7 linked regions of the Homo sapiens genome follow. The protein of the gene in region 1 purifies or fractionates together with the protein of each later gene. This does not show direct contact. Each region holds a gene or a part of one and is shown in the gene's direction. Other genes may lie near its edges.

Region 1 (3,500 bases):
CAGTCTGTGCATCGTGAATGACGAGCTGTTTGTGAGGGATGCCAGCCCCCAAGAGACTCAGAGTGCCTTCTCCATCCCAGTGTCCACACTCTCCTCCAGCTCTGAGCCCTCCCTCTCCCAGGAGCAGCAGGAAATGGTGCAGGCTTTCTCTGCCCAGTCTGGGATGAAACTGGAGTGGTCTCAGAAGTGAGTGCTGGGAGTACATGGGGATGGGGGCTGTTGGGACATCAGAGGAATGAGTAATGGAAACTCACATGCAATTTGGAAAAATAACTATCTGGGTATTTTGCTTCCAAAAAAAGTGGGTCCATGAAAAAGGTATCATACTTTTATACTGGTATATGTAAATATTTTTTTAAATGGCATAATGCCCAAATGACATTACCTTCCATTTGTAAAATCTGAAAGAATCAACCACAATAAACTACTGATAAACCAGGTCAGCAAGGTTGAAAGATACAATATACAAAAATCATTTGTACTTCTATGTAGTTGCAATGGACAATCCAAAAAAATGAAATTAAGAAAATAAGTCCATCTACAGTAGCATCGAAAAGAAGAAAGTATGTAGGAACAAATTTAAGAGAAGAAGCGCAAATCTTGTACTCTGAAATCTGCAAAACATTGCTGAAAAAAATTAAAGAAGACCTAAATACGTGGAAAGGCATCCCACGTTCATAGATTGGAAGACTTAATATCATTACGATGGCAGTACCACCCAGAACAATCTACAGATTCATTGCAGTCCCTGACAGAATCCCAACTGACTTCTTTGCAGAAATTGACAAGGTAATCCCAAAATTCATGTGGAAATGCAGTGGACCCCAAACAGCCAAAACCATCTTGAAAGAGAAGAACAACGTTAGAAGACTCACACTTCCCGATTTCAGAACTTGCTACAAAACTACATTAATCAAGACTGTATGGTACCGACATAGGAACAGACGTGGGAATCAATGGAATATAATTGAGAGTCCACAGATAATCTCACGTATTTATGTCCAGTTGATTATCATTCAGGGTGCTGAAAAAATCCAATGGAGAAAAAAAATAGTCTTCTTAACAAATGGTGCTGGGAGAAGTGGATATCCACTTGCAAAACAATTAATTTTGACCCCTAACTCACATCACGTGCAAACACTGGCAGAAAATGGATCAATGACCTAAAATAAGAGCCAGAACTGTAAAACACTGTAAGTGTACATCTTCATTACCTTGAATTAGGCAACCATTTCTTACATATGAAACCAAAAGCACAAGCAACCAAAGAAAAAATAGGTAAATTGGACTTCATCTAAATTAAAAGCTTTTGTGCATCAGCAGACACTATCAAGAAAGCGGAAAACCGACTGGTGGGAACAAGGGAAAATATTTGCAAATCACATCGCCGACAAGAAGAACCCTTACAACTCAACAACAAACAGACAAGCCACCGAATTAAAAAATGGGGAAATGATTTGAATAGATGTTTCTCCAAAGGAGATATACAAATGACCAAGAAGCACGTGAAAATCTTCTCAACATCGTTAGTCATTAGGGAAACGCATATCGAAACCACAGTGAGTTACCACTTCATACCCACTACGCTAGCTTTAGTCCATAAAAGGAAACATGACAAATGTCGGTGAGAATGCAGAGAAATTGGAAATCTCATGTATTACTACTGGGAACATAAAGTGGAGCAGTTGCTGGCAAAAAGATTTTGGCAGTTCCTCAAAATCTTAAACATGGAGTTACCACATGATCCAGTAATCCCACTCCTAAGTGTATACCAAAAGAAATGAAAATATATGCCCATTCAACAACTTGCACATGAATTTCCGTAGTGGCATTATTCCAAATAGCCAAAAAATGGAAACACATGGATTGACCTTCAGCTGATGAATGGATAATGTGGTACATCCATACGGTGGAATATTATTAGAATATTATTCATCCACAAAAAAGGATGTAGTTGTGATATATGCTATGACGTGGATGAACCCTGAAAACATTATGTGCTAAGTGGGAGCACCCAGTCACAAAAAGCCACATAATTATATGATTCCATTCATACGAAGTGTTCAGAATAGCCAGATCCGTAGAGACCGAAAGCAGAGTAGTGGTTGCCAAGATCTGGGGAAGAGGGAGAACAGGGAGTGATCTCTAACAGTTAAGGAGTTTCTTTTTGAGGTGATAAAAACAGTTTGGAATTAGATAGGTGTGATGGTTGCACAATCTTGTGAATAGACTTAAAAGCACTGAATTGTACACCTTAAAATGGTGACTGCTACAGTATGTGCATTATATCTCAATAGAAAAGAAACGTATTATTGAATTTCCACTTGTTATTTCTTGAACATCTTTCTTTATCAATATGTATTAAGCTCCCTTGTTCATTTGAATACCGCTATGTTTCTGATTTGAATTCTAGTGGGCATTAATGTCAGGGATGGGCGTTTTGGTTTTCCCCAGGCCTTTTTTCATTGTTACAATAGTGCTCATATTGGTACATGTGACCCAGCAAAAAGGTAGCATAGATTAAGGGTGGCATTGCATAGTCAGCGTGTCTGTCCTGGGCTAGTAATGGAGAGCACCTGTTCTTCTCCCACCCCAGGTGCCTTCAGGACAATGAGTGGAACTACACTAGAGCTGGCCAGGCCTTCACTATGCTCCAGGTGAGGTCTGGGAATCAAGTGGGTAAAAGACAGCTGTCTCTGGGTCGTCAGGAGGGCCAAGAAGATGGAGGCCAGGTAGTGTGGGGATGGAACCCAGTGCACCTGGCTCTACTAACATCCCAACTCCTTTTCTTTACTTTCTCTAGACCGAGGGCAAGATCCCCGCGGAGGCCTTCAAGCAAATCTCCTAAAAGGAGCCCTCCGATGTCTTCTTTGTCTTCGTTCACATCCTCTTTGTTTCCTCTTTTCACCAGCCTAAGGCCTGGCTGACCAGGAAGCCAACGTTAACTTGCAGGCCACGTGACATAACCACCCAAAGAGCCAGTTGCTCTGTGTATTCGCCCCACTCATGATCACCATTTTATTTTCATAATAAAGAGTGACGTTACACGTTGTACATTGTGTGCCCTGGATTGCTCTTCCCCTGCCCCAGCCGTGAGCCAGCGGGACCAGGACTGAAAGCACTGCATCCCTGTTCATCCCTGGCTGGCCTTAGCAGATACATGAATCTGGCTTGCCTTCATAGGTAATTTTGTCCGTAAATCCTCATGAGAAAGGACACACGCTCCTTCCAGAGACTGGCCTTGAGAGACAGTTGGACTCTGTCAGATGCTCGACCTGGAGGCCCACAGAAGCAGGCATGTTACCTTGGCACACCAGGGGCTTCCATCCACCGTCCCGACCCCTCCCTTTCCCAAAGGTGCACTTTTCGAGGAGTCGTCTCAGGGTAGCACCTGCGGCGGGGGGTGGCGGGGGAGGGGGATACTCAGCCCATCTACCCGGCACACTCCTCAGAGAGCTGACACCGGGTGCTCCATGTCCATGTTCTTGAAGGGGATCAGC
Region 2 (3,500 bases), on another chromosome or scaffold:
CTGCTGCCTGTGGGCAGAGCTGTTCCCCTGGGCGGTGAGACGAGGGTGTTTTCTTCTTACCTGTCAGCAACATCATCAAGGCAGCCACCTGTGAGGGCAGTGAGAGCAGCGGCTTTGGGAAGCTGCCGAAGAATGTCTCCAGTGCCACCCACTCAGCCCGGAACAATACTGGGGGCAGCACGGGCTTGCCCAGGCGGAAGGAGGTGACGGAGGAGGAGGCTGAGAGGTGACCGATCTTGGGGCGGTGGGGGGGGGCCTGAGCCTAGAACACAGAGGTGGGCAGGCATCAGGGTCTGGGGGGCTCACACCTCCGAGGATAGAAATTTCCATTTAATAATTGTTTTAATTTAATTTTTTTTTTTTTTGAGACAGAGTCTCGCTCTGTCGCCCAGGCTGGAGTGCAGTGGCGCGATCTCTGCTCGCTGCAAGCTCTGCCTCCCGGGTTCACACCATTCTCCTGCCTCAGCCTCCCGAGTAGCTGGGACTACAGGTGCCCGCCACCACGCCTGGCTAATTTTTTGTATTTTTAGTAGAGACGGGGTTTCACCGTGTTAGCCAGGATGTTCTCGATCTCCTGACCTCGTGATCCGCCCGCCTCCGCCTCCCAAAGTGCTGGGATTACAGGCGTGAGCCACCACCCCCGGCCTGTTTTAAAATATTGAGACCGAGCAGACCCCATGTGGTGTGGTTCTATTTACATAAAACACCAAGCAAAGGCAAGTTTATCACAGGAGGTCGAAGGCTGGTGTAGGGGTGGCAGAGAGGGCTCCTCCAGGGGCAGTGGAACATTCCAGAACTGCACTGTGCTGATGGTCACACAACTCTAGATTTGCTAAAAATCATTGACTTGTACACTGAAAATGGGTAGATTTTATAGTATGGAAATTGTACCTCAGTAAAACTGTTAATTAAAACAACATTAAAGGCAAAGAAGATACAGAACTGAAAAAAGCCAACAACACCCAAAGCTCCAGGGGCTGTGGGCGGAGCCTCCTGTGATGATGACTGTTGGGGGCTGTGCCCCTGCCGCTTGCCCCTGGGGAGCTGGAGGGGCTGTGGGCGGAGCCTCCTGTGACCATGACAGTCGTTTCTTGTCAGGACAGTCGCGGGGGTACCTCCCTGCCTGGACTTTCGGAGCCTGCTCCTGGCGGAGCCGTCACCTACCCTACCGCCCAGTTAGGGCTAGGGAGACCAGGCCTGTAGACGCGGTGGGTGGCACGAGGGAAGGGGGACCAGAAGCCCGCAACCCCTTGAAGCCCCCCAGTTCTGCCCGGGGCAGACTGCTCCCGAGCTAGGGCTCACACGTTCTGGGTTCTCTGTTAGTGCCTTTGCTGAGAGAATCCACACATGGTCCCGAGAGCCAAGGTGAAGCATTTTTTTTTTTGCTTAATCAGTTTTACTTAGTATAATTTGTATACAATAGAAGGTGCCCATTGTAAGTGTGCAGTTCCATGAGATTCCACCAGGGTGTATAGTGCTGTCTGTGGACACAGCAGACCAAGATAAGGAAACGGCCCAGCACCACCAGGCTTCCCTCGAGCTCCTTCCCCGCCCAGATGCCAGCAGCCACCAGTCTGTTCCCTCATAGCCCTGCCTGTTCCGACCACCCTCTCTGTGGAGCCACGGCCTGTGGTCTGCACTGGCCTGAGTCCCGGGCCTGTTGCCTGTGGGTAGGGTCCCGCCATCCAGTATTCACGCTGTAGCCAGGTCATGGGCATTTGAACTCTTCCCACTTCCTGGCAATTGTAAATAAGGCCACACAGGCCTGCGTGGGTAGGCGTTTCCTCTCCCCTGGGCACCTTCCCAGGAAGAAGGTTTTGGGTTTTAGTGGAGCTGGTCCAGGCGGCTGGTCCTGCCATGTGAAAATGGTCCAGGTGGGCTGGTCCTGCCTTGTGAAAAGGGCTACTTGAGTGCAGCCGCCGGCTTCTCTCTTCCCCGGCTCGACCTTCCACCAGCAGCCAGCTGGGTCCTGCCGGGGCGCTGGTCCTGTCTTGGCCCTGAGTCCTGCTCTCCGGGCAGGTTTATCCACCAGGTGAACCAGGCCACTGTCACCATCCAGCGCTGGTACCGGCACCAGGTGCAGCGGCGCGGAGCAGGAGCTGCCCGCCTGGAGCACTTGCTTCAGGCCAAGCGGGAGGTCAGTGTGGGCGTCTCAGTCACTCCATGCTCCCCCGGGGGGTCTGGCCCAGAATCCCAGGGGTTTGAGTTTCTGGGACAGGTGGAATCAAAGCCTAGGATTGCTCGTGGGCCCCGTCTCTGGGTGCAGCATCCTTCTTGACCCTGGGTCCCCGCGGACAGTCAGGGTGGTCCTCACTGGCGGTCCTCAGGGCCTGGGTGTCAGGAAACGCCTGCTGGGTCCATCCCAGGCTGGAGAGTCTCAGGAGGACGTTCTGTGGGGGCAGAGCTGTCTCCCCCACGCCAGAACTGTTGGCCACCTGCGACGTAGGGCTCATCCTCTGTAGAGCAGAGAAATGGCAGGTTCAAGGTCCTGGTGGGGTTTCACTTTCCCTGCTGGCCCTGAGATTCCACGAACTCTAGGGGACTCCAGGGCGTTGTGGGGAAACCTCTGGTCTGGGTCTGGATTCCGTCTTCCAGATGTAAACGCCACATGGCACCGGCTTCTTTGGCAGGAGCAGCGGCAGCGGTCAGGCGAGGGGACCCTCTTGGACCTGCACCAGCAGAAAGAGGCAGCCAGGAGGAAGGCCCGGGAGGAGAAGGCACGCCAAGCCAGGCGAGCAGCCATTCAGGTGCTGACCGCGCAGGGACCACTGAGCAGCACCGTGGCCCAGGCCTGACCGTGCGGGGCTGCTGCTGGGGCTCCCTGGGCCCCGGGACACTTAGCCTCAGGGCAGCTTGGCTGTGGAGCCTGGGGTCGTCCTCTCCCAGGGACAGTGCTCAGCGATGCTCCCACTGCAGGAGCTGCAACAGAAACGAGCCCTGAGAGCCCAGAAGGCGAGCACTGCCGAGCGTGGGCCACCTGAGAATCCCAGGGAGACCAGAGTGCCAGGAATGCGGCAGCCTGCTCAGGAGCTGTCCCCCACACCAGGCGGCACTGCCCACCAGGCCCTCAAGGCCAACAATACTGGTGAGAGTGGCTCCACGCCCGCCCTGCTCTGGGGGGTGGACTGCAGCCAGGAAGGAAGTGCAGCCCTTGTGGACCTCCTCTCGGCCTCCTGTGCTGCTGCCCATGTTGGCGGCCCCAGTCCTCGGAGTTAGGGGCCTTGGCCCCCAGCTGACCTGACGAGGGTGCCGAGACCTTGACAATCAAATGGTCCTGGACGTAGGGATCCCTACAGAGTAGAAGGCCCGGAAGGGAGGGGTGGCACTCATCCTCCACAGCTCCACACCCAGAAGGCCGTGGCTCCCCAGCGGCTCCTCTGCTTCTGGGGTCGCCTCCGCCTCCCCCATGCCTGGCTCCTTCCCGGGGGTGCCTCCAGAGTTGCTGCCCGCCCCGGGATGCTCCCTGTGGAATGGTGCTGTGTTCTGCTGTGCAGGTGGTG
Region 3 (3,987 bases), on another chromosome or scaffold:
TAGATGGAGGTAGGTATAGAGGGAGGGAGGCAAAAAGAGTTAAGGAACTGGACAGCTGAGAACTGTCTACAGGTTCCAAAAACAAGACAAAGAACCTTTTATTATCTGCCAAACAAGACAGTCTACATTGAGACTGCTCTGCCTTTCGTTTTTATGTGTCAAAGACACTTAAATTGGCCTGTAATCCCAGCACTTTGGGAGAACGAGGTGGGCGGATCACCTGAGGTCAGGAGTTCAAGACCAGCCTGGCCAACATGGTGAAACTCCATCTCTACTAAAAAATACAAAAATTAGCCAGGCATGGTGGCGCACACCTGTGGTCCCAGCTACTACGGAGGCTGAGGCGGGGGGATCACTTGAACCTGAAGGCAGAGGTTGCAGTGAGCCGAGATTGTGCCACTGCACTCCAGCACGGGCAACAGAACAAAGACCCTGTTAAAAAAAAAAAAAAAAAACTTAAATGAGTCCCAAGAAAAAAGGAAAAAAGAATGAATATTGTGATGTGTGGGGCAAGACAAGATCTAGATGGTCTAAGGACAAGCAAATCTGGGGAATTAACTTCTGCCCATCCAAATTACAAGGAAAACAGATGCTTTGGGCAAGTGTCGAGGAACAGTCTCATACTTAAGACAAATGTAGGCTTACGGGCTGAGAATTCTTGGTGTAAAGGTTGAAAACGGACCTTAAACCTTTACGGGACATTGACACAGAGAGGTCAAACCCGCGCCCAGGACGCACAGTCAGTGAGAGGCAGAGCTGGGAAGGGAACCCGGAGCTCCAGGCATCGGCTCCTCCACCTCCACCTGCGCTACCCGGTGCATTTTCTCCTCCGTGCTCACTGCTGGTGTTGCCTCTTGGAACCTCGGCAGTTTCTGCTTTCGCACCTGCAGGGTTTAGTCTCCGGGACTGCTTGGGAGGACACCTGGAATGCCGAAGGCAGGACTACACACCGGGCGAATCCACCAGCGCCACCAAGCCCTTGAAAACCCGAGGCCGCCGCGCGACTCCATTTCCCAGCGCCCCGCGCGGCAGGGGCTTGGACGTTGCCAAGGAGACCGGTAGTGGCCCCGCCTCCACGCAGGGAAACAGGCGGGAACCACGTGACCCGGAAGGCTGTACGCAAGCGTCCGCGGCGCGCACTGGGCCAATGAGAACCGAAGGGCTGGACTTCCGGCGGTGGGACTGTCACTTCGCCGCCCGCGTCAGGCCACACCGGTGGTCTGGGCTGGGGACCGCGGGTCGGGTCCGGTTTCCAGGGGGTTCCTGGTGCTCGAGGCTGGCGGCGAGGAAGGTACTGGCTGAGGGCCCGCGTCGGGCCCGCCCTGCGCACGCGTCGTGATCAAGGGCGCCGGCCGCCGGCCGCGCCCCCAAGCCTCTGTTTCTCAGAGTGCGTCGTGGGCGTCCAGGGGACTGTCGGGCCGCGGCGGGAGCCATGCGCTCTCCCACCGTGCGGCAGCCCAGGAGGCTGCGCGCTGGGCGTTCCACGTCCATGATGGCCGGGGAGACTGAGGCGCGGGGCGGCCCCGGGACGCTGCTGGCGGGGAAAGGCTGGGTGGTCCACGCCTTTCTTCCCTCCCAGCTGCGGGTTCCGCTGGCGGCGGTGGCGCTGACAAGCCCGCGTCGGGGAAGCAGGGGAGTCCCTGCTCACACAGACCGCGCCCTCACGGAGGGAGGCCGCTTCCTAGACCTCGCCTAGTCGTCTTTCCTCTCCCTGCCCTGGGGGGGTTGCGGGGGTCAGTGCAAACTCCTGCGTCCAGGGCACTGGTGAGCTCCCGAGTTCGGGCAGCCAGGGGGCTGAGGTCCCGAAGGAGGCTCCGAGGGGAGAGTCCTGCGTGTGCAAAACCTGGGAGGGGAGCCGAAGCCCAGGTGCTTCTGGGACTGAGCTCTCTCGATGTGGAGCTGGAGTAGAGGGGATGTGTGCGGCTGCAGTATCAGGCGAGGGAGTGGGCTTTATCTCGAGGGCGTCGGGAGACATAGAAGTTTTGAACAGAATCAGGACATCCTCTGAGGACTTTAAAACGGTTCCACCGTTTGTTGCGTGGAGAACAGACATGCAGGGGTGTCGGCATGAAGGGAAGAACCGACTGCCACAGTCTGGGCAGCAGTGGAGGTGGGCGACCAGGTGAATTCTGGTGGATCTGCGGATGCATCAGGTGTGGGCTGTTTGAAGAACTAAGTACCCCATGTTGTTCAGCCTGAGCGCCTGGAAGAAGAGAGCTGCTGTAGATAGAAAGGAGAATTGAAAGGAAAGCAGGTTTCCTTCAGGGGAAAGATCAAGAGTCTGGGATGTCCCAGGTTGGTCATGTCACTGGACCTGACGTTGTTGGCGTCCTGGGCTGTGGACAGGGCCTATGAATTGGACTGAGGAATGGGCAGGGACTCAGCCAGGTGTGGGCAGTTATGGCTTGAGGGTAAAGAAGACCAGCTGGGATGCCTGGGGCTATTGGGAAGAGCCTAGCACCTAACTGAGGAGGGGAGGGTGGCAACAGAGAGGGGAAGAAAGGGGACACCGGGTGAAAGGAGGAAGGGATTGAGTTCCTCTGTGTTCACAGGTTGTTGAGGCTGCTCCCCTGTGGCGACTGGTGAGAATCATCCAGTCCCTCAGGCTGGATGAGCAGCCTGGAAATGTCAGGCAAGCAGGCTCAGCAGGGGAGGGTCCCAGTGATGGGTATGCCTGGGAAGCCCCTGCTGGGACTCACAGTTTCTTGCTACAAGAGCAGGAAGGGTGCATCTGGGGAGGGTCATGAGTGGTCATGCTGAGTCACGAGTGGACACCTGGGGCTGCTCTTGGTGTGGCAGCTGAGGGCCCAGCCAGGACTTGTTCTAGCTTGCTTGTGTATGGCGTTGCCAGTGGGGAGGCCAAGAAGGCATCTGGGGTCTGGTCAGGGAGGGCAGAGGGGAGGGGTCCCAGACATGTGAGGGAAGTGCCATCTGAAGATGGTGGGGGCAGAACCCAGGGAAGGAGGGTGAGTGTCTGAGGGACATCATGGAAGGTGGCTGTTGGGATGGGGAGCTTGGTCCTGGCTCACAGCCATACCTTAAACTAAGCTTGTCCAACCCACTGCCCAGGATGGCTTTGAATGCAGCCCAAAACAAGTTCGTGAACTTTCTTAAAACATGAGATGTTTATGCAATTTTTATTTTTTTTAGCTCATCAGCTGTTATTAGTGTTAATGTATTTTATGTGTTGCCCAAGACAATTCTTCTTCCAATGTGGCCCAGGGAAGCCAAAAGATTGGATAACCCAGCCTTAGACCATGGCTGTCTCTTCCTCCCTGCTCTTTTAGGACCAGATGGCCTTTGAGGATGTGGCTGTGTACTTCTCCCAGGAGGAGTGGGGGCTCCTGGACACAGCCCAGAGGGCCCTGTACCGCCGCGTGATGCTAGACAACTTCGCACTTGTGGCCTCGCTGGGTAAGGTCCTAGATACTCCATGAAATGGGCAACTGATAACAAGCTGACTGGCCAGGGCTGCCCCCTCACCTCCCTGGTGGCTGACGAGCAGGCCTATACCTTGCAGCCAGGAGCCATGTGGAATAGGGGTCTGGTCCTATAGACATGCAGTCTGGTTGGCTCAACCACTCCCTGTGGCGCTGTCCGGCTGTGGCCTCTCCGAGCCTTGGCTCAGTCCCCTTCCTTTGGTGCCCTGGGCACAGTTGCTGCCCTGGGGATGAATGAGCTATTCCTGTGAGCCCCTTGCCCTGTGCCATCTTTAGATTCTGCAGTTGCACAGATGACATTTTCTGTTTCCGTGAAGCCCTGACTCCTGCCCTCTGTTTGGAGGTGGGTTATCTTGAGCTGGGGCTGGACTCTAACCTGCACCTCCTCCTCACAGGACTCTCCACCTCTCGACCTCGTGTGGTCATCCAACTGGAGCGTGGCGAGGAGCCCTGGGTTCCCAGTGGAACGGACACAACCCTGTCCAGGACCACCTACAGGAGGCGCAACCCTGGTGAGAGGGAGCTCAGGGTGGGGTGAATTCAGGAC
Region 4 (3,500 bases), on another chromosome or scaffold:
TATAACAGAACTACTCCCTTGAAGGTGAAATAGAGTGCAAATAACAGATACACTACTTTCTCAATTAAGTCTTATAGATGTCATTAGTGAAGGATCTTCTTAACTCATTACTTATTAGTGAATACCTTAATGATGATCATTCAGAAGCTAGCTGTGGTCAGATGCTGTAAGAGAAAAGATAACGGGGAAGGCATCCGTGAATGGGAGCTCAAAGAAAGTGGCATCTCTTCATTATCCTTATGGGGCCAGTGGGCTGGAGGCAGAAACTAGACCTGTTTTCTTTGCAGTGACACTGTTAGGTTCTTAGCCTGACATCTGTGGATGGACATAGGAGATTGGTCCATGGCTTTCTGCAAAATTTGGACTATACATATATATTAATTTTTGTAATGAGATTCTCCAAGGGTTATTATGACCCTAAAGGGATTAAAAATCTCTGGATTGCAGATATATAAACATGTTGATTTAACAAATTATTTCAAAAATGTTATGATAGTAAACTACCATTTATTAAGGGCTTAATGTGTTATCTTGCTCTGTGAAGTACTGTATTTATATTATCTGAATTCTATGTCCCTATAATTCCCATTCTGTTTAAAGGAGTAAACAGGCTTAGGCTTACAAATATTTGTACAGCAGACACAGCCCATAACTGACAAAGTTGAGATTTAGATGCAGATTTCTAATTATTTACTGCATCCTCCATTATTAATGAAAAATGAATTTTGCCCAATAAATGGCAAACTGTCAAAAGCCTATCTTTGCAAAAACTCAGTCCCACCAATGAATACCTTGTGTTATTGTCTACTATGAAGGAACCTTTTTTTAACTGTCTTCCCCGCCCCCGCACACACACACACAGTTTAAATTAGAAGATGCTCACATAAATACGTGCTTTCTTTTTTTTTTTTTTTTTTTTCTGGAGACAGAGTCTTACTTTGCCCGGGCTGGAGTGCAGTGGCACAATCTCGGCCCACTGTGACTTCCACCTCCCGAGTTTAAGCAATTCTTGTGCTTCAGCCTCCCGAGGAGCTGGGACTACAGGCACCTGCTACCGTGCCCAGCTTATTTTTTGTATTTTAGTAGAGACGAAGTTGCCCAGGATGGTTTCGAACTCCTGAGCTCAAGTGATCCGCCCACCTTGGCCTCCCAAAGTGCTGAAATTAAAGGCGTGAGCCACCGCGCCCGGCCAATACTTGCTTTCTTTCTAAAAGTAGTTGTAGCTGTTGAGAGGGCACTTGATTTGAGCTGGCTGTGAAATTGCAATAGGCTTATGTGTTCTGATAGGCCTATAAAGCAGAGAAAATAGTACCTGTGTTACCTATTTCAGAGGGTTCATGAAGGTCCAACAAGTCATATTTGTAAATGCTTCAGAAACTTTAACTCCTTAAAAATGAGTAGACAAGGCCAGGTGTAGTGGCTCATGCCTATAATCCTGGCACTGTGGGAGGCTGAGGTGGGTGGATCACCTGAGGTCAGGAGTTCGAGACCATCCTGGCCAACATGGTGAAACCTTGTCTCTACAAAAATACAAAAATTAGCCGGGCTGATGGTGGGTGCCTGTAGTCCCAGCTACTCGGGAGGCTGAGGCAGGAGAATCGCTAGAACCCAGGAGGTGGAAGTTGCAGTGAGCCAAGATCATGCCATTGCACTCCAGCCTGGGCGACAGAGTGAGACTCCGTCTCAAAATAAAATGAGTAGACAAGAGTGAACATACTTTATAAACTCTGAGAAACACTTTGAGCTGGGCACAGTGGCTCACACCTGTAACCCCAGCACTTTGTGAGGCCGAGGTGGGCAGATCACGAGGTCAGAAGATCGAGACCATCCTGGCCAACATGGTGAAACCTTGACTCTACTAAAAATACAAAAATTAGCTGGGTGTGGTGGCACGTGCCTGTAATCCCAGCTGCTTGGGAAGCTAAGGCAGGAAAATCGCTTGAACCTGGGAGGTGGAGGTTGCAGTGAGCCAAGATCATGCTACTGCACTCCAGCCTGGGTGACAGAGCAAGATTCTGTCTCAAAAAAAAAAAAAAGAGAAGAAAAAAGAAACTTTCATGTACAATAGAAGAATGAAATAATGCTGCCAGTTAAATTGGCCTTTAATGATAATACGACACAGCCCAATTTCAGAGGGATAACAATATGGGTAGAAATTTGCAGCGTAGAATCAAGAAGGTGTGGTATATTGTGGGGTGCTGTCCTTCTAAAGTTCTATCATAGGCTTCCCTGTCTTTGAAAGTCACTGGAATTTCTTTTATTTTCGTCTCTTTAATGTACTAGGCTACAAGTGATCAGTTTTACAGCTAGGTTTCTTTTGTATCTAGTAGTCTTTTTCAAAATTTTCTTGGAAGGTCAGTGCCTTTTATATTAAAAATTGCAATTTTCTTACTCCAGCAAGATGAAGGGGATGTCCAGACATTCACAAATGGCAAAGATCAGAAGTCCTGGCAAGAATCACAAATGGAAAAACGACAATTCTAGACAGAGAGCAGTCACTGGATCAGGCAGTCACTTGTGTGATTTGAAGCTAGAAGGTCCACCGGAGGCAAATGCAGATCCTCTTGGTGTTTTGATAAACAGTGATTCTGGTAAGCTAAACAGGAAAATAACGTATTTATAAGTGTATAGACAATGATGCTGAAGTTGATTATTCACAGCCTTGCTTGTGGAAAGTTTAATATCAAATGTATAACAATGCAGAATGATGCTTTTGTTTTTGTTTTTAATAGGAGCATCTTGTTTAAAACGTCATTTCAGAACATCTTTTCTGAGTCTTGGGTGGGCACATGGGGCAGGGAGGCTATAGGAGAAGGACTGTATTTGCTGGATAATTTTCATTAGTATGAGGTAATCTTAGAAATTTCTTAAGATTGTTTTGAATGTATTAATGCTGTGCATTCAAATTTGCCCAAATATGTGGATTTTCCCTTTACCTATAAAGCAGCAATTCTAACGGAAGTCAGTATACTTTATGCTACTGAGCATGAGCATGATCTCTGGGCAAAAAATACTAATTCATTATGTTTGATCAGTACTGTTCTTCAGAGCATAGATTATATTTATATATGTTTGTCCTTGAATTTCCTCTAAAACATATAGGGCAAGTTAACTTGCTTATTAGTTGAAAAATAAAAGCATTAAAATGCTGGTGTCACATACAGATATCATTTAGCCTTTGAGACTCCATTTCTCTTCCTGAAAAATGAAATGTGTATGTAAATATTTTTACTACATTTTTCTCCAGTAACATTGTGAGGCTTTATCTAATTGCATATGCTTTGTACTGCAAAGGAATACCCAAAGATTATTAGTGAGTGAATTGACATTAGTGACATTGTAGATTTGATTGTAGGCTGTTTAGCTTGGATGATGTTGGCTTCTATGATAATCACATGGCAAGTTTTTGAACTTACGAGTGGCAAGAAAAGAGAGGATAACTAATTCGTTGACTGAATTAGGATGGAAAAAGATCATTGCATAAGGGAACATTAGGCTAA
Region 5 (2,450 bases), on another chromosome or scaffold:
AAACAGCCTTCCAAGGCAAGAGCAAATGCACCCTATCTAAGCACAGCTTTTCTCCAATTCTTATTTACCTAAGGAGATGAATAGCTGCCAGGAACATTGTTTGCACAAGGGCAGGAGCCTGCCAGATCTGAGAACACAGCAAAATTTTTATTTTGTCAAAAATCTTATATTCAGCTTACACCATTCATTTCAGGTGAACATACAACAGTCTGCATTTCAGTTTAGGGAAATGTTTACAGTCGTCTGGTTCTCTTTATTCTTGGGAACAAGGTTACCTCACTTGGAACACATAACCAGTGCCAAGTTGTCCATCCCTAAGCAATATCGCTTCCTCCTACTTTCTAGAAGTTCTTCAGGTTGTGGAAGACAGACTTTTCAGAATTGTTTGCCCTCATTCCCTCCTCCAGAAATGCATGCCTTTGTATAATCTCTTCCCCTTGAGAGCCAGTAGGCTAACCTAATGAGTTATGTTTAACCAGTAGAATACAGCAAGAATGATAGATTACAAGAGATTGTGGCTTCTATCTTGCTAGCGGCCTCTCTCTGTCTTCTCTGCTTGCACACTTTGTTGAAGCAAGCTACCATCCCAGAGGCAAGGAACACAGGCCATCAGTTTAGCAGCCTTGAGGAACTAAATTCTTCCAACTACCACATAAGTTTGGAAGTAGATTCTTCTCCAGTCCAGCCTTCAGATGAGACCCCAGCCATGCCAACATCTTGATTGCAGCCCTGTGAGAGACCTTGAAATAGAACCATTTCTGATCTCCTGACCCACAGAAACTGTGAAATAAATATGTGTTAAGGTACTAAGTTTGTAGTAATTTGTTACGCAGCAGATTGTAAATAACACGCAGATAAAACCAGACAGAACAGAAAAATAAAATGACTTTAACTCTAGAAAGTTTCCCCATGTAAAATTTTGAAAATGCTACTCTGCCTAAGGTCAAACTGTCATACATATATACGTATGAAAACACAGAAAGGTGTCTGGAAGGGTAATACCAAATTAAATCTTTATCCAAGAGGAATGAAAACCAGTATTCACACAAAAACCTATGCACAAACCTTGTGAATATATTAAAAACCAGTGAATTATGCACTTTAAAAAGGTGAATTATGTGGTATATGAATTATATCTCCAAAACATTTAATTAAAAACCTGTACACAATTATTCGTAGAAACTTTCTTTAAAATTGCTAAAAACGAGGAAGATCTCAGTTATCCTTCAACTGGCAAATGAATAAACAAACTGGTACAGCCGTGCAATTGAATACTGCTCAGCAATAAAAAAGAATGCACTGCCAGTTCAGCAACATGGGTAATTCTCAAATGCATTATGCCAGTTGACAGAGGTCAGACTCAAAATACTATGTACAGTGTGATTCTACTTATATGACACTGAAAAAAGCAGAACTATAAGGACAGAAAACAGGTTAGCGGTTGCCAAGGAGTGGGAGAAGCAGCCAGGGAGAACTTTGAGGAGATGAAAATGTGCCAGGCCTTGGTCGGTGGTGGTACGTAACTGTGCATTTGTCAAGACTCAGTGCTATATGCTGAAAAGGGCAGGTTTTACTATAAGTAAGTTGTACCTCAATAAACATGATTTTTAAATGATTAAAACTTTGGTTTTTGTTTGTTGTGGTTCAGTTTTAAGGTTTCCCATAAATCTATTGGTTTTAGATTCTAAGTTGTATATAAGCTTCTGTTTTAAAAGAATTTTTTTTTAAATCCCCTTATCGTCAACAATATTTAGTTGTGCTGGAAATTTTATTTTGGAATTGTTTAATAGAGAAAGACAATAAATAATGTTCAAGAACAGACATTGATTCATAACATCAAAGTATATTGTGAGAAGATGGTATTTCAGAATAGAGGAAGAATTTCTTATGTGCTGGTAAGATTGTAGATAATCATTTCTGCATAATTTTCATAGCTGGATTGCTTTAATAAAGCCATTTAAAGGTTAAGTTCTAGATTGCTTCATGTTGCTTATCAATGTTTTAAAGCTAAAATAGAAAATTAGCTGTTAAGTTGGCTCAACCGGAAATTCAGTATATCCTTTAAAAAGAGAAATTTAGTAAGCAGTGTGTCTAAAGAATGACATATGGTTGGGTACAGTGGCTCGTGACTGCAATCCCAACACTGTGAGGCTGAAGTGGGAGGATCACTTGAGCCCAGGAATTTGAGACCAGCCTGGAAAACAGTGAGACCTGCATCTCTACAAAAAAACAAAAAATTACCCAGGCATGGTGGTACACACCTTGTGGTCCCAGTTGCTTGGGAGGCTGAGGTGGGAGAATCACTTGAGCCTGGGAGATCAAGGCTGCATTGAAGTCTCATCACGCCACTGCACTCGAGCCTGGGTGACAGAGCAAGACCCTATCTCAAAAAAAAAAAAAAAAAAAGAACCCCCCCCCCCCACCAAAAAAGGCATGTGATCAGTAAAAAA
Region 6 (3,500 bases), on another chromosome or scaffold:
TTTGTTTTATTGTTTATTTTAGGTAATAATAGACGTGGATGGAATACAACTAGCCAGAGATATTCCAATGTCATCCAGCCATCCAGTTTCTCCAAATCCACACCATGGGGGGGCAGCAGAGATCAAGAAAAGCCATATTTCAGTTCTTTTGATTCTGGAGCTTCAACTAACAGGAAGGAAGGCTTTGGATTGTCTGAGAACCCATTTGCTTCACTTAGTCCTGATGAGCAGAAAGATGAAAAGAAACTTCTGTAAGTGAAAGTTTTCAGGAAAATTACTATCCATTTGCTTATGTTTTTTCACCTACAATCTTTGTTGTTTCTCTTTTTTTGTAACATCTTTTCACAATACAATATTTTCTTTAAAAAAAGAAATAATGCATTATTTTTAAATCAGAGTAGCAAAAAGAAGAAAAATCACCCACAATTCTATCACTCATAGATAGCCACTCTTTTGCTGTGTATTACCCTAGATTTTATTTCACTTAAAAATATATCATCTTTCTATAATAGTAGAGTGCCTTCCTAGGGGTAATTACGCTTTTTCCACTTTGTGTTGATAACACTATATTGTGAATATCTTTCTAAGATTAGTCCTGCTTAAGTTCATTCTAACTTACAAGTCCTTTACAAAGTATGATGTAATTTAGAACAACTTGTGAACTTGGAGGTCATTTTACCATCTCATTTATTTATTTATTTATTTATTTTGAGACGGAGTCTTGCTCTGTTGCCCAGGCTAGAGTGCAGTGGTACAATCTCGGCTCGCTGCAGCCTCCGCCTTCTGGGCTCAAGCCATTCTTCTGCCTCAGCCTCCCAAGTAGCTGGGATTACAGGCTCCTGCCACCAAGCCAGCTAATTTTTTGTGTTTTTAGTAGAGATAGGGTTTTACCATGTTGGCCAGGCTGGTCTTGAACTCTTGACCTCAAGTGATCTGCCTGCCTCAGCCTCCCAAAGTGCTGGGATTATAGGCATAAGCCACCATACCCAGCCACATATCTTATTTCTTTCTAAAACTTTTACTTGGATTATCCTATTCAAACTGATCTCATTTGATTTCCTACATTTATTATGGAGTAGATACATGACATTTCTTGAGAATATTTATGGTAAAATTTATGGCTGGTGTCAAAACAATGCTTGGCTATCTGTAATGTTCTCTCAACTCATGGTGACTAGGATGGAATTTAAATGTAATTGGTTAGTCTTTTACTTATCCTAATTAAATCAGAACCAGTTGTAGACATGTTGAGTCATATACCATATACAACCGATTTTTTTTTAAGTAAATGAGCAAACAAAACCTTCCTTTCTGCATTTGTTGCAATTCTAAATTTAATACAGTTTTCTCTGTGATAATTCTCCTTTTATTGACATAGTCTAAGTAGGGAGAAACTTTAATTTAGAGCCGAATCTACCCACGGCATTACCACAGATTAGTTGTATGGATGTGGGTCTGTTTCCCCTGTTGCAAAATGTGAGAATTAGATAAAATGATCTCTGAAGTCCTATAACCCACTTTTAAAATATTATGATTCTGTATCACGTAAGTGGTACTTTGTTCTTCCCAGTTAAATGATTATTGATGTTTGTGATAATTAACAAAGATTAAAGTTAGTATTTTAGATTTTAATTCCTAAAAAAAGTATGGTATCTATGATAGTATTTATGTAATTACTATCATAACCAATGTTACATATCATACCAATGATACCATATGATATGGTTACATATCATAACCAATGTTATGTATTAACATTGGTTAATGGGTCAGTGTATTGGAAAGCCAAACTCATTAACTTCTCTGACATTATAATACTATTTGTAACCATGAAATATAGTTCACACTTCTATAAACTTGTGCTTTAAAGAACACTCTTCAGAAAATATAATGGAAAAGTATTTACTAGAATTTAAATTTTCAGTTGTGGAAAACCATTAACAATAAATTTTACCAAGCAGCTAAGAAGATCCTTTACTCTTTTTTTTTTTTTCTTTTTTGCAGGGAAGGAATTGTAAAAGATATGGAGGTTTGGGAATCATCAGGGCAGTGGATGTTTTCTGTTTATTCACCAGTGAAAAAGAAACCTAATATTTCAGGTAACTGAAAAATTGTGCATTTTTAAAGTATGTTCTAAAACTATTATTTTCTAAAACCAAAAGAATGCCAAATAAAGAAATCAACTACCAACTTAGCTACAACTAGGAGAGTTTGGGCATTGTTTAAAGTATTCGAGTATTCTAGCCAAACTTCATAATTTAGAGATTAAGGTTGGAGAATATAGTCTTTTAAGACATATAGTTCTTGGGAGAAAACATTTAAATAAAGCCCAGGAAGAGACTCTACGTTCTTGATTCCCTGTATGTACAACTTTGGAACCTCTTAGCTTCCTGTTGTGAATAGAAGAGTCATCCTGCCTGTCATTAAGGCCTTGGCTGCCTGGTTCTGTTCTTTCTTCCCTGTCTTTCCTTCTAAGAATAGTTGTGTTGAGACCTGTTCTGGAGATAATGTTTAAATGTGAGGAGGCTTAGCTGGGCTACAGGGATAGCAACTTTTTTTTTTTTTTTTTTTTTTTTGAGACGGAGTTTCACTCTTGTCCTCCAGGCTGGAGTGCAGTGACGCGATCTCGGCTCACTGTGACCTCTGCCTCCCAGGTTCAAGTGATTCTCCTGCCTCAGCCTCCCGAGTAGCTGGGATTACAGTTGCCCGCTACCACACCTGGCTAATTTTTGTATTTTTCTAGAGACGGGGTTTTACCATGTTGGCCAGTCTAGTCTAGAACTCCTGACCTCAGGTGATCCGCCCGCCACAGGCTCCTAAAGTGCTGGGATTATAGGCGTGAGCCACCACACCTGGCCTGGAATAGCATTTGCTTTAGAATATTCTCTGTCTCTCTCTCTCTCTCTGGCCTGGAATAGCATTTGCTTTAGAATATTCTCTCTCTCTTTTTTTATTTTTTATTTTTATTTTTTTTTTTGTCCATAGTCCCTAAGCCCTTTCTGGGCTGAAACCTAGACCACCGGGCTTTCCCAAGCCCACTCTGGGTGTTCCTGGGCCTCCGTCCTTTTGAGGAAACAGTGGGTACCTTGCAAATGGGAGCTCTTGCAATCAATATCGCAGAACCTTGGGATCTTTCCTCTGTCTCAGTTCTAGTTGCTCATTTTCTGTGAGCATTTGCATTACAACGCTTCTTATTTATTCACTTGTCCATTTAACAAATATTTACTGAATTTCTTTTGTGCTAAGTGCTAGGAATATAGTGATGAGCAAGACAGACAAGATCCCTTCCTTATGAATCTTACATTCTTGAGGGAGGAAAACAATAAGTGATGCAAATAAACTAAGATAATTTCAGATAATGATATTTTCTATAAAGAAACCACAAAGTATTAAGCCCTTAATCAGCTTAAGTATTAGTACTTGAGTATTAATCCATTCCAAATTGAACCTAATGCCTGTTGCCCTAAAGCAGTGGTTCTTAAAATGTGGATTCCTGAATA
Region 7 (3,500 bases), on another chromosome or scaffold:
AGCAACCTTAGAGCCTTTCTGAGATTCTTAGTGGGGACCTTGGCTTCCAAAAGATTAAAAACCACTGGTCTAGACAGAAGTCAGAATGTTCTTTCAACTACATAACTTCTCCATTAAATAAAGTGGAGTGGTAGCAACATTTTGACGATTGGTTATTATGACCACCTCTCTTACACTTAGAGTCTTTTTTTCCCCCCCAAATTTAAAGTCATTTACATTAGAACCTGGGGATTTCAGCGGAATATGGATTAACTAGTGAGTAACTGGAACATGTGAAGCTATTCTGTAAAGTTAGGTTTGAGTGAAATGACAAAACAGGGTGCTTTGGATAGAAGGTAAAGAATGGAGGGAGAAGAGGCAGTGGCTGTGAAGAATATGAAGAGGTTAGTATTCTCCCCCAGTTTGGCAGAGGCTGGCCATCTGTGAACTGCCCATGCCTTCTAGAATGTCGGAGTTTTGGTGTGTGATGATGCGTCTGTATATCATATCTTTCTAGTCTTCCATTGTGCTTTCATTTGTTAGTCTTCTCTTGTTTTGCCATTTTTCTACTCCCTCACATGTGCTTTTGCCCTTCTTAAAAATATTCTTCGTCTGTAATCCGAGCACTTTGGGAGGCCGAGAGACCAGCCTGACCAATATGGTGAAAATCTGTCTCTATTAAAAATACAAAAATGAGCCGGGCGTGGTGGCAGCGCCTGTAGTCCCACCTACTCGGTAGGCTGAGACAGGAGAATTGCTTGAACCCTGGAGGCAGAGGTTGTGGTGAGCAGAGATTGCGCCACTGCACTCCAGCCTGTGTGACAGAGCGAGACTCTGTCTCCAAAAAAGAAAAAAGGAAAAAAATATAATTCTTTCTCTAGTTTTTCTTTTTCCCGATGGCTTCTGTTTAGTTTTTCTATGTTCTGTCAAGTCGATTTCTTATTCTGCAGCTGATTCCTACTTCTCAAAGTCTACTTGACAGCTCTTATTTTTATTTATTTGTTTTTTAGAATAGGGTCTTGCTGTGTTGCTCATCAAATTTTTGGGCGTAAATGATCCTCCTACCTCTGTTTCCTGAGTACTTAGGACTACAGGCAGGCACCTTTGACAGCTGTTAGTTGTTTTTTCTGCCCTTTACATCTATACTTCATACTTCTGAGTAACACACATATATACTTTTGTTATTTTTAATTCCCTTTCTCCCATTTTAGACATTTTCTTTTCTTTTCTTTTTTTTTTTTTTTTTTTTTTGAGACGGAGTCTGGCTCTATCGTCCAGGCTGGAGTGCAGTGTCGCGATCTCGGCTCACTGCAAACTCTGCCTCCGGGGTTCACGCCATTCTCCTGCCCCAGCCTGTAGCTGGGACTACAGGCACCCGCCACAACACTCGGCTAATTTTTTAGCATTTTTAGTAGAGACGGAGTTTCACCGTGTTAGCCAGGATAGTCTCAATCTCCTGACCTCATGATCCGCCCGCCTCAGCCTCCCAAAGTGCTGGGATTACAGGCGTGAGCCACCGCGCCCGGCCCCATTTTAGACATTCTGTACTGGCTATTATGCTCCTCCAAAACTGTCCTCAGACACTTTGGTTTGCCCCTCATTCTTTCAGTACTGTTACTGCAGTTTTTGTTTAAATGAATAGTTAACATTTATATAAATAGAAGGTAAATATTTTTGCATTTGAATTGCCCTTGTTGTGCAGTTTTTTGTTGTTTTTTTTATTATACTTTAAGTTTTAGGGTACATGTGCACATTGTGCAGGTTAGTTACATATGTATACATGTGCCATGCTGGTGTGCTGCACCCACGTTTTCCTGGACTGAATAATTGCTTTATTTTTTGGTTTGCTTGTATGTTGTGTTACTACTTGCTTACTTAAACTCAGCAATTTAAACCCTCAAATGTGGTCAAACTGGTCACATAATCCCATCAATTTCAGCTTAAAACATTGATTGATTGATTGATTGTCTGTCTACCTGGAATACCCTTACTAACCAACTTCTCCAACCCGGATTGGTTTTTCTTCCTCTTTGCTACACAGCTGTGCTCTTGGGACTTCCCTTTATCACCAGTTTGAGAATTCCCTTCATCTTTTTTCTGAGTTAGACCCTTTGTTTCTTGTATCTCATGTCCTCTTCATTTACTTTCTTTGTTTTGGTGTAGCATAGTCTCACTTGCTTTGAGGAAAAGTGGATGAGAGGTTTTTTTGTTTGTTTTTGTTATGGGACAGAGTCTTGCTCTGTTGCCCAGGCTGGAGTGCAGTGGCATGGTCTCAGCTCACCGCAACCTCCGCCTCCCAGGTTCAAGTGATTCTCCTGCCTCAGCCTCCCGAGTAGCGGGATTACAGGTGTGCGCCACCATGCCCGGCTAATTTTTTCTATTTTTAGTAGAGATGGGATTTCACCATACTGGTCAGGCTGGTCTAGAAACTAATGGTATGTCTTTAAAACATCTTTACTTAATTTAGTTGATCATTTGGTTATCGAATTCTGAGTTTCAAATAATTTTTTTTGCAATTTTGAAAGCATTGCTCCATTTTCTAGAAGTTCTGTTGTTAGGAGTCCCATGAGATTCTTGTTCTTGGTAACTTAAAGGTTTTCTGGAAGTGTCCTTTCAATTGGGAAACTCATTTCTTTCAGTTCTGTAGCATTTCTTGTATTATTTCTTTGACCATTTCTTACCCTTTTTTTTAATGATGTTTACCTGAAAGCTGGAGTTTCTCTAATTTTTCTCTTATTCTCCTCTTTTGTTTGTTCTGCCTTTTGAGAGATTTCCTTACCCTTATGTTCCAGGGGAAGAAGATTGGGGAACTCATGGTTCAGTATCTAGACTTTTCCTCATTGTCCTGTATAATCACGGCCTTCACCCTTGTTGGGACTCCACAGATTTGGAGCTGATCAGATGGGTTTGTTGAGAACAGCAGCTTTTTTGGAGGATTTTAGGGGGAGGGAGATTCATTTGACTGTGCAAGATGGGCGACAGGGTGAGACTCCGTTTGAATTAAAAAAAAAAGAGAGAAATTTAGAACTGCATAATGAAAAAGTAGGCCACAAATATTAAGTTTTGGACAATTACAATTACATCTCTATCTTACTGTGCAAGATAGCGATGATGTGGCATCTCTTAGGGTCTTACTGTTCCTGTTTTCAGCCCTGCATCAGTTCTTGATATTTGGCAGCTTAAGTGAATTCAGGTATTTGCTTATAGTGACATCTGCTGTCATGTAAAGAAGTACTGCTTGCATCAGATATTGTCCTGTTTACATAACATGGGCTGTGCTCCTTTCTAGCTGTATATCTTTAAACAAGGCATTTGTCTGCTTGAGCTTCAGTTCCCTTGTAAAGTGAGCAGGTTAGAGGCAAAAGATCATATAGAAGAATAATTTGTAAAGTTGTTTAATTATCTTAAGATTGTCTACTTTAATAACATAGTTGGAAGCAAAGAAGGTAATGGAATTATTTTTCTATTATGTTTTAACATAGTTGGAAGCAAAGAAGGTAATGGAATTATTTTTCTATTAT

What was found.
Region 2: the proteins of NXF2 (region 1) and CEP131 purify together in Homo sapiens (affinity purification with mass spectrometry, with the first as the bait; 2 studies listed by BioGRID). This does not show direct contact.
Region 3: the proteins of NXF2 (region 1) and ZNF324 purify together in Homo sapiens (affinity purification with mass spectrometry, with the first as the bait; 2 studies listed by BioGRID). This does not show direct contact.
Region 4: the proteins of NXF2 (region 1) and NUFIP1 purify together in Homo sapiens (affinity purification with mass spectrometry, with the first as the bait; 2 studies listed by BioGRID). This does not show direct contact.
Region 5: the proteins of NXF2 (region 1) and RGPD5 purify together in Homo sapiens (affinity purification with mass spectrometry, with the first as the bait; 2 studies listed by BioGRID). This does not show direct contact.
Region 6: the proteins of NXF2 (region 1) and NUP42 purify together in Homo sapiens (affinity purification with mass spectrometry, with the first as the bait; 2 studies listed by BioGRID). This does not show direct contact.
Region 7: the proteins of NXF2 (region 1) and RGPD8 purify together in Homo sapiens (affinity purification with mass spectrometry, with the first as the bait; 2 studies listed by BioGRID). This does not show direct contact.

The regions. Positions count from the first base shown.
Region 1 is NC_000023.11:102,323,667-102,327,166, forward strand, and holds the end of NXF2 (nuclear RNA export factor 2), read left to right. Parts: intron 1-3; coding exon 4-186; intron 187-2,596; coding exon 2,597-2,657; intron 2,658-2,803; coding exon 2,804-2,848; 3' UTR 2,849-3,056; downstream 3,057-3,500. UniProt on the Homo sapiens protein: Involved in the export of mRNA from the nucleus to the cytoplasm.
Region 2 is NC_000017.11:81,198,966-81,202,465, reverse strand, and holds part of CEP131 (centrosomal protein of 131 kDa), read left to right. Parts: intron 1-67; coding exon 68-226; intron 227-2,019; coding exon 2,020-2,137; intron 2,138-2,630; coding exon 2,631-2,747; intron 2,748-2,916; coding exon 2,917-3,085; intron 3,086-3,494; coding exon 3,495-3,500. UniProt on the Homo sapiens protein: Component of centriolar satellites contributing to the building of a complex and dynamic network required to regulate cilia/flagellum formation.
Region 3 is NC_000019.10:58,465,893-58,469,879, forward strand, and holds the start of ZNF324 (zinc finger protein 324A), read left to right. Parts: upstream 1-1,187; 5' UTR 1,188-1,291; exon of another isoform or gene 1,292-2,286; coding exon of another isoform or gene 2,287-2,295; intron 2,296-3,287; coding exon of another isoform or gene 3,288-3,293; coding exon 3,294-3,414; intron 3,415-3,835; coding exon 3,836-3,952; intron 3,953-3,987. UniProt on the Homo sapiens protein: May be involved in transcriptional regulation. May be involved in regulation of cell proliferation.
Region 4 is NC_000013.11:44,958,472-44,961,971, reverse strand, and holds part of NUFIP1 (FMR1-interacting protein NUFIP1), read left to right. Parts: intron 1-2,397; coding exon 2,398-2,591; intron 2,592-3,500. UniProt on the Homo sapiens protein: Binds RNA.
Region 5 is NC_000002.12:109,853,305-109,855,754, forward strand, and holds part of RGPD5 (RANBP2-like and GRIP domain-containing protein 5/6), read left to right. Parts: exon of another isoform or gene 1-2,385; intron 2,386-2,450.
Region 6 is NC_000007.14:23,185,048-23,188,547, forward strand, and holds part of NUP42 (nucleoporin NUP42), read left to right. Parts: intron 1-22; coding exon 23-251; exon of another isoform or gene 252-255; intron 256-2,004; coding exon 2,005-2,099; intron 2,100-3,500.
Region 7 is NC_000002.12:112,427,146-112,430,645, reverse strand, and holds part of RGPD8 (RANBP2-like and GRIP domain-containing protein 8), read left to right. Parts: intron 1-3,500.